Linked DNA regions of Homo sapiens. The protein of the gene in region 1 interacts with the protein of each later gene in a pairwise test. Each region holds a gene or a part of one and is shown on either strand. Other genes may lie near its edges.

Region 1 (3,500 bases):
GAAGGTGAGGTAAAGGCTTCCTTAGGACGAGCATGTGTCAGTAACATCATCAGAGCTGTGGAGTGTGGAATCTCCAAACCTACCCCGTTATCAATTAGTGCAACTATAGGTGGGAAAAAAAACCTGCCAGTGCCGCTTAAATGTTTATAATTTGACTGATAGGGGTTGTGTTTTTCTTCCCAGGATCCACCGGAGCATCAGATCATGACTGAGGGAGGAAGAGAGATAGGTACTTGAGTCATCTCGAGAGTCCATCCATGGGAAAGAATGGGAGGCAGGAGGAGAGAAACAAAGCCTAATTCTTGAGCACAGACACTCCACCTTTGGTATGGATGCTGTAATGACCCGGTTGACTTAAAGACAGATGTAAAGGCGAGGTTTGCATCCTCCATTCTTCTTTTGAGCTATAACATTGTATCCGTGACTCTAGGTCCCATAACACAGGTGTCTCCATCGCCGGGGCGTGGACAGGTACAGGTTGGTGGCCCATTAGGAATCGGGCCACACAGCAGGTGAGCAGTGGGCGAGCCCGCATTACCGGCTGAGCTCTGCCTCCTAATGCTCCAGGCACTAGATTCTCATAGGAGGCAAACCCTATTGTGAACTGTGCATGCAAGGGATCTAGGTTGTGTTCTCCTTACGAGATTCTTACTAATGCCTGGTGATTTTAGGTGGAACAATTTCATCCTAAAACCATCCCTCCCACCCCCATTCCGTGGAAAACTTGTCTTCCACAAAACCAGTCCCTGGTGCTAGAAAGGTTGGGGACTGCTGCCATAACAGATCCAAGAGCCATTACACCAAGGCCAGCTTCAGCCAAACACCTTCAACTGACTGAAGTCATGCGTTCCTAGAGGGATCTGTACAAGGAATTTATCTACCACCTGGCCCCATTCTTCTAAGGGCATTCTGAAATGCTGAAACCCAAACCGAGAAACTTAAGGGCCAATTACCTTAGAGATCTGCTATAGGACCTGGAACAGAACAAAGGGCTAGATGTTGGAAAGTCACATGAGATGCCATTTATCATGTGGGCTGAGAACGGTTAGTCTGAGAATATTCCCATTTGGGTAATTCTATATCACTCACCCCAAATTTTTCTTCCTTGAAAGTAATGTTGCTGCAAGTTTGTTTAGCTATTAATCATTTGCAATTTGGGATGCCTATCACCTTGGTAATGGAAGAAGAAACCTGATATTACAGCTAAAATTCCAAACAATTTCCAGAAAGATTGTTTTTTAAGTTTTTTTGAGGCAGAGTCTCAACTCATACCACCCAGGCTGGAGTGCAGTGGCATGATTACAGCTCACTGCAGCCTTGACTACCTGGGCTCAGGTGATCCTCCCACCTCAGCCTCCCAAGTACCTGGGACTACAGGTGCATGCCACCATGCCCAGCTAATTTTTGTACTTTTAGTAGACATGGGGTTTCAACCATGTTGTCCAGGCTGGTCTTGAACTCCTGGGCTCAAGCTATCTGCCCACCTCAGCCTCCCAAACTGCTGGGATTACAGGTGTGAACCACTGTGCCTGGCCGATTAAAATTTTTTAAAAGCAACTGCCATTAGGCAAGTCACCCTGTTTATTTTATTTACCTATAAAATATCAGGGGTGGGGTGCGGTGGCTCAAGCCTGTAATCTCAGCACTTTGGGAGGTCAAGGCAGGCCGATCATCTGAGATCAGGAGTTCGAGACCAGCCTGGCCAACACGGTAAAGCCCCGTCTCTACAAAAATACAAAAATTATCCAAGTGTGGTGGTGTGTGCCTGTAGTCCCAGCTACTTGGGAGGCTGAGGCAGGAGAATTGCTTGAATCCGGGAGGCGGAGGTTGCAGTGAGCCAAGATCATGCCACTGCGCTCCAGCCTGGGCAACAGAGTGAGACTGTCTCAAAAAAAAAAAGAGAGAGAGACAGACAGAGAAAAGAAAAGAAAAATCAGGGAACTGGATGTTTCTTGTGGGAAAATAATGAGTGGTTCAGAACCCTCCTCCTAAAAAAAGCTCAGGTCTTCATCCTCTGTCCCCCATCTTCCTAAATCGACCTACTCCACTGCTCCTCAGATCCAGAAACACCCGGCTGGCATTCCCAGCAGCTACGCTGATGACATGATAAGCAAGATCGCCTTATATGTGAGCATCCAAGGACTTGGGGAAAGTGCTAGTTAGGAACACCAAGTCACACACAGCTCATCACCCAGTTCTCAGGACTTCCCCACCCTTCCTTTCCACCCTCAAGAAATGGCATATGGCTGCTTTGGGAGTGACCAAATCCCTGGAATTTCTCCCACAGCATACTCCTTCCGCACTCTGCCCTACAAACTCATTTCAACAATCCAGCCCTGCACATAAGGGAGACGTTATTGAATGGCCAGAAGCTTACAAAATCTTTCACTGGCTTTGTTTTTTAAAGAGTTGAAAAAAAATAGCTATCTTGATTTTTGTTGTTTTTTTCCCCCCCAAATGCAAAAATTTGCTTCTCAGTGAGAATTTGTAAGAAATTAAAAATCTGGAAATGTCCAATTCAGGGAATTAGAAATGTATCACCACAATAGATGTTTGAATTATGACTAGCATATATTGCACATCACCTATGTGCCATGAGCTACAAATACAAATCACATTTAAATAAATTCAACTAAATTATAAAAGTGAACATGGCTTGCTGTTTGAAGGATTTGCTGAGAGCCCCAGCTTTGGTGTTCGGCACACCTACACTCCAATCCAGGCTTTGCACATAGTAGGTTGTTGCAGCTGTCACTTCTCAGAAAGGACTTCCTGGTTGTCCTTTGTCAAATAAGTACATTGAGACATTACAGCGGTAGTCAGAGACTTAACTAGGCTGTGCATAAATAGTAAAAGCAGCTAATATTACCTAAGTGTTTACTATATGCAAATGCTTTGCCTGAATTAACTCATTTAATCCTCGAACAACCATAAAAGCAGAACTGTTATTTTTATAAAAATTAAATTATTATTTACATGCTAATAAAACATAAGCTCCAGGACACCTCACTTGTGCAAGCCCCTAAAAATGCGTGATGTTTGTGGTGCCTGTCAGATTGTCAAAATGTGTAATTTGTTGTGCTTTCTTTATCTTTCTAAATAAATAGTCATTTTAGCACCTAATTTTGTAGTTATAATTTGATACTTTTTTCCTTCAAGAGGGTCCTGCAAATTGTATAAACTTTACTCTCCTCCCAAAGCCTAGATCCACCCCTGCCTATGTAGTAGGAATTATTAACAACTCTATATTGCAGATGATGAAACTGAGACCCAGAGAGGTTAAGTGACTTGCCCAGGTACACACAGGCAGTAAGTGATGGGGTCCAGATATGAGCCCAGGCAGTCCGGCACCACATGGAGTACTCAACCAGAATACATTATTGCCTCTTATTATTTTCACATAAAGCTCCTAGCAAACTCCCTGAGACATTGGGACATTACAGATACTCAATAACTGGTGGCTTTTACTATTTTGTCAATCTAAAACTGCTTTGATAATA
Region 2 (4,032 bases), on another chromosome or scaffold:
GGGCGCATGCCTGTAGTCTCAGCTACTTTGCAGGCACATGCCTGTAGTCTCAGCTACTTCAGAGGCTGAGGCAGGAGGATCCCTTGAGCCAAGGAAGTCAAGGCTGCAGGGACCTTTGATCATGCCATTACACTCCAGCCTGGACAACAGAGCAAGACCCTGTCACACACACAAAAAAAGAATATATTTATATACTCTTTCATTCCATACTGTATTTACCAAATCTCCCTACCTCAAGACAAAAATAAGCCATTTAAAAAATTTTCCTTTGTAAATTTGGGAGGCGTACACATCATTAGAAAGACAAGAGAGGTCAAGCTTAACACCAAATAATTCAAGAAGGGCTCAGTAACATAGAAAAGCTATAATTTTAAAATGTAAGACAGTCCACATTCATCAGGATTTTTTTTTTTAATACAAAAGTTAACAAGCGTTAGAATATGGGGAAATTGAAGCCTTCATACCTTGCTGGTAGGAATGTAAAATGGTACAGCTGCTGTGTAAACAGTTTGGCAAGTCCTTAAAATGTTAAACATAGAATTACCATATGATCCAGCAATTCCACTTATAGGTTCATACCCAAAAGAATTGAAAAACTGGGATGCAAACAAATGCTTGTACACCAATGTTCACAGCAGTACTAGTCACAATAGCCAAAAAGTGGAAACAACCCAAATGTCCATCAACAGAAAACTGGATAAACACAATGTGGCATGCATACATCTATATGATGGGATATTATTCAGCAGAAATTCTGACTCATGGTACAATATGAATGAACTCTAAAGACATGCTAAGTAAAATAAGTCAGACACAAAAGAACACTTTTCTACTTAAATGGAGTACTGGAATAGTCAAATTCATAGCAGTACAAAGTAGAATGGGGAGGTTACCAGAGATGGGAAAGGGGGAAACAATGAGATATTATTTAATGGACACAGAGTTTCTATTTGGGCTGATGAAGTTTTGAAAACTGATAGTGGTGATGGTTGTACAACATTATGAATACACTTAACGCCACTAAATTATATACCTAAAAATGGCTAAAATGGTATAAATTTTATTTATTTATTTATGAGACAGAGTCTCGCGTCTTCTCCCAGGCTGGAGTGCAATGGCGTGATCTCAGCTCACTGCAACCTCTGCCTCCCAGGTTCAAGCAATTCTCCCACCTCAGCCTCCCCAGTAGCTGGGATTACAGGTACACACCACCACGTGCGGCTAATTTTTTTGTATTTTTAATAGAGACTGAGTTTCACCATGTTGGCCAGGCTGATCTCAAACTCCTGACCTTGGGTGATCCGCCCGCCTTGGCCTCCCAAATTGCTGGGATTACAGGCGTGAGCCACCACGCCTGGCCTGGTATAAACTTTATGTTATCTGTATTTTAGCACAATTTTTTAAAAGGAGAAATTTTAATTAAAAAATGGAAGAAAGTCCATTTATTTACTTACACTCAACAGAAATTCAACTAAACTCAACTAGTTGTTGAGCAGCTACTTTGGGCAAGGTATTATGTGGCCAATCCTAAAACAATTAAAGATGAGTAAGGCAGTATCTCTGGCCCCAAAGACCTCAAGATTTAGCTGACAGGCAGATACTATAGCAGACTAGCATCTCCCAGTGGTCTGTGTAATCTTTATAGGGATTCTACAAGGCCAAAACTATTTTCATAATAATTCTAAGAGTTTATTTGCCCTTTTCACTGTGCTGACATTTGTACTGATGGTAGAAAGCAATGGCTGGTAAACTACTGGTACCTTGGCAGGAGTCAAGGCAGTGGCACCAGATTGAGCCATTAGTCACTGCATTCTTCACAGCTACCTAATTACAGTCCAAAAAAAGCAAGCTAGTTTCACTTAAGAATATTCCTGGCCAGGAGTGGTGGCTCATGCCTGTGGGAGGCCGAGGCAGATGGATCACTTGAGGTCAAGAGTTCAAGACCAGCCTGGCCAACATGGCGAAACCCCATCTCTGCTAAAAAAAATACAAAAATTAGCTGGGTATGATGGCACATGCCTGTAGTCCCAGCTACTCAGAAGGCTGAGGCACGAGAATCGCTTGAACCTGAGAGGAGGAGGTTGCAGTGAGCTGAAATTGTGCCACAGCACTCCAGCCTGGGCAATACAGTGAGACTCCGTCTCAAAAAACAAAAACTAAAATTAAAAAAAGAATATCCTTGATGACACAATAAAAATTAATTGTATTAAATCCCAACCCATGAATACCTACTTTTTTCTTCTGTTGCCCAGGCTGAGTGCACAGGCTCCATCATGGTTCACTGTAACCCCACCTCCCAGGCTCAAGCAATCCCTCCATCTCAGCCTCTGGAGTAGCAGAGACTACACGCACATGCTACCATGCCAAGCTAATTTTTTATTTTGTATAGCAACAGGGTCTTGCCATGTTGCCCAGGCTGCATATCTTTTTAATATTCTATATGACAAAAAGGAGACTACATAAACAGGCTTTTGTTACATACTACAGGAAAAGCACCTGTGATTGTCTGAGTCATGTAATGAACTAGCCACATTTTTCATGGACCATCATCTTTACTTGAGAGACTGATAAACTGTGTTAATAAGACTTGGGCATTTGGTGTACATCTTCAACATGAACAAAGTGAGCTTTTCGCTTCAAGAAAAACTGACAGTATTTGTTCTCAATGATACATTTCTAATTGTTGCTTGAAAAATACATTTTGGATAATGTGTATCCACAACAGTGAACTAGATAGCTTCCCAATATTTAAAGAGTTTTCTGATGAGATCAGTGATATTAACAAACATGATTTTCTTTGATATTGTATAATGAAATGTGTTGCTATTCAGAGGACGTTCTTAACTGAGTGAACCATTATTTTCCAAATAACTAATGCACTATGTCACAAAAATCACACATGGATGAGATTCGTTCAAAGTACAAAATAGACCAATGGATCTTAACGTATTAAGTATGAAATTCATTACTAAGGTTTCAAATTCCAATTCAGCAAACTTTAAGAAACTACTTTTCTTCCACCTTTCTCTGGGGGGGAAAATAGCTACCATTTTAGTGCAGAATATCCACAATTATCTGAAAAGACTAATAAAATATTTCTCCTTTTTCCTACTACATATGCATGTGGGGCTGCTATTTCTTTAGATACTTCAACCAAATAGCGCAAGAGATTGAGTGCAGAAGTGGATATGATAATTCAGCTGTCTTTTTTTTTTTTGAGACGGAGTCTCACTCTGTTGCCCAGGCTGGAGTGCAGTGGCCCAATCCCAGCTCACTGCAACCTCCGCCTCGCGGGTTCAAGCAATTCTCTCTGCCTAAGCCTTCTGAGTAACTAGGATCACAGGCATGCACCACCACACCCGGCTAATTTCTGTATTTTTAGTAGAGACAAGGTTTCACCATGTTGGCCAGGCTGGTCTCAAACTCCTGACCTCAGGTGATTCGCCTGCCTTTGTGTCCCAAAGTGCTGGGATTACAGGCGTGCGCCCGGCCATTCAGCTGTCCTCTATTAAGCCAGACATTGAAAGAGGTTTGCAAAATGTAAAACAACCCCACTCCTCCCACCACTATTTCTTATTTGGGGAAAAAAGTGTTTTTTCTTTAAAATATATATATAAACATATAAGTTTGTTTTTAAAGAAATATTTTTAAATTGCCTAAGTTTAAATTTCTCATATAGTAAATACTGGAAGATGTAGCCCACATAAAAACTCTCTGGGGTCCTCAATAAGCATATAAAGGGTTCTGAGAGCAAAAAGTTTGAGAACTATTACTACAATCCAATGAGCACTACAAAAGTAGAAAAAAGGGTGCTCAATTCCAAAAGAAAGTAGTCTTCACAGAAGAAAACATACTGACTGGGAATCTACATGATGGATATATTTTTGTTTGAGTTTTCCTTGTTGGGGGGGCAGGGTGAGAGAGGCAGAATCCAAGAAAATGGAAATGGAGTATTTCCATGTGTCCTGAAAAAAGGTGAGTAGAGACTAATGTAATGGAAATTCGTGTAACAAATATAATTTACTGGAGAGG

What was found.
Region 2: the proteins of ITIH5 (region 1) and PPM1D interact in a two-hybrid assay, tested with the Homo sapiens proteins (one large-scale study listed by BioGRID and IntAct).

Annotation. Positions count from the first base shown.
Region 1 is NC_000010.11:7,660,467-7,663,966, forward strand, and holds part of ITIH5 (inter-alpha-trypsin inhibitor heavy chain H5 isoform 1 precursor), read right to left. Parts: intron 1-3,500. UniProt on the Homo sapiens protein: May act as a tumor suppressor.
Region 2 is NC_000017.11:60,602,949-60,606,980, reverse strand, and holds part of PPM1D (protein phosphatase 1D), read right to left. Parts: intron 1-4,032. UniProt on the Homo sapiens protein: Involved in the negative regulation of p53 expression. Required for the relief of p53-dependent checkpoint mediated cell cycle arrest.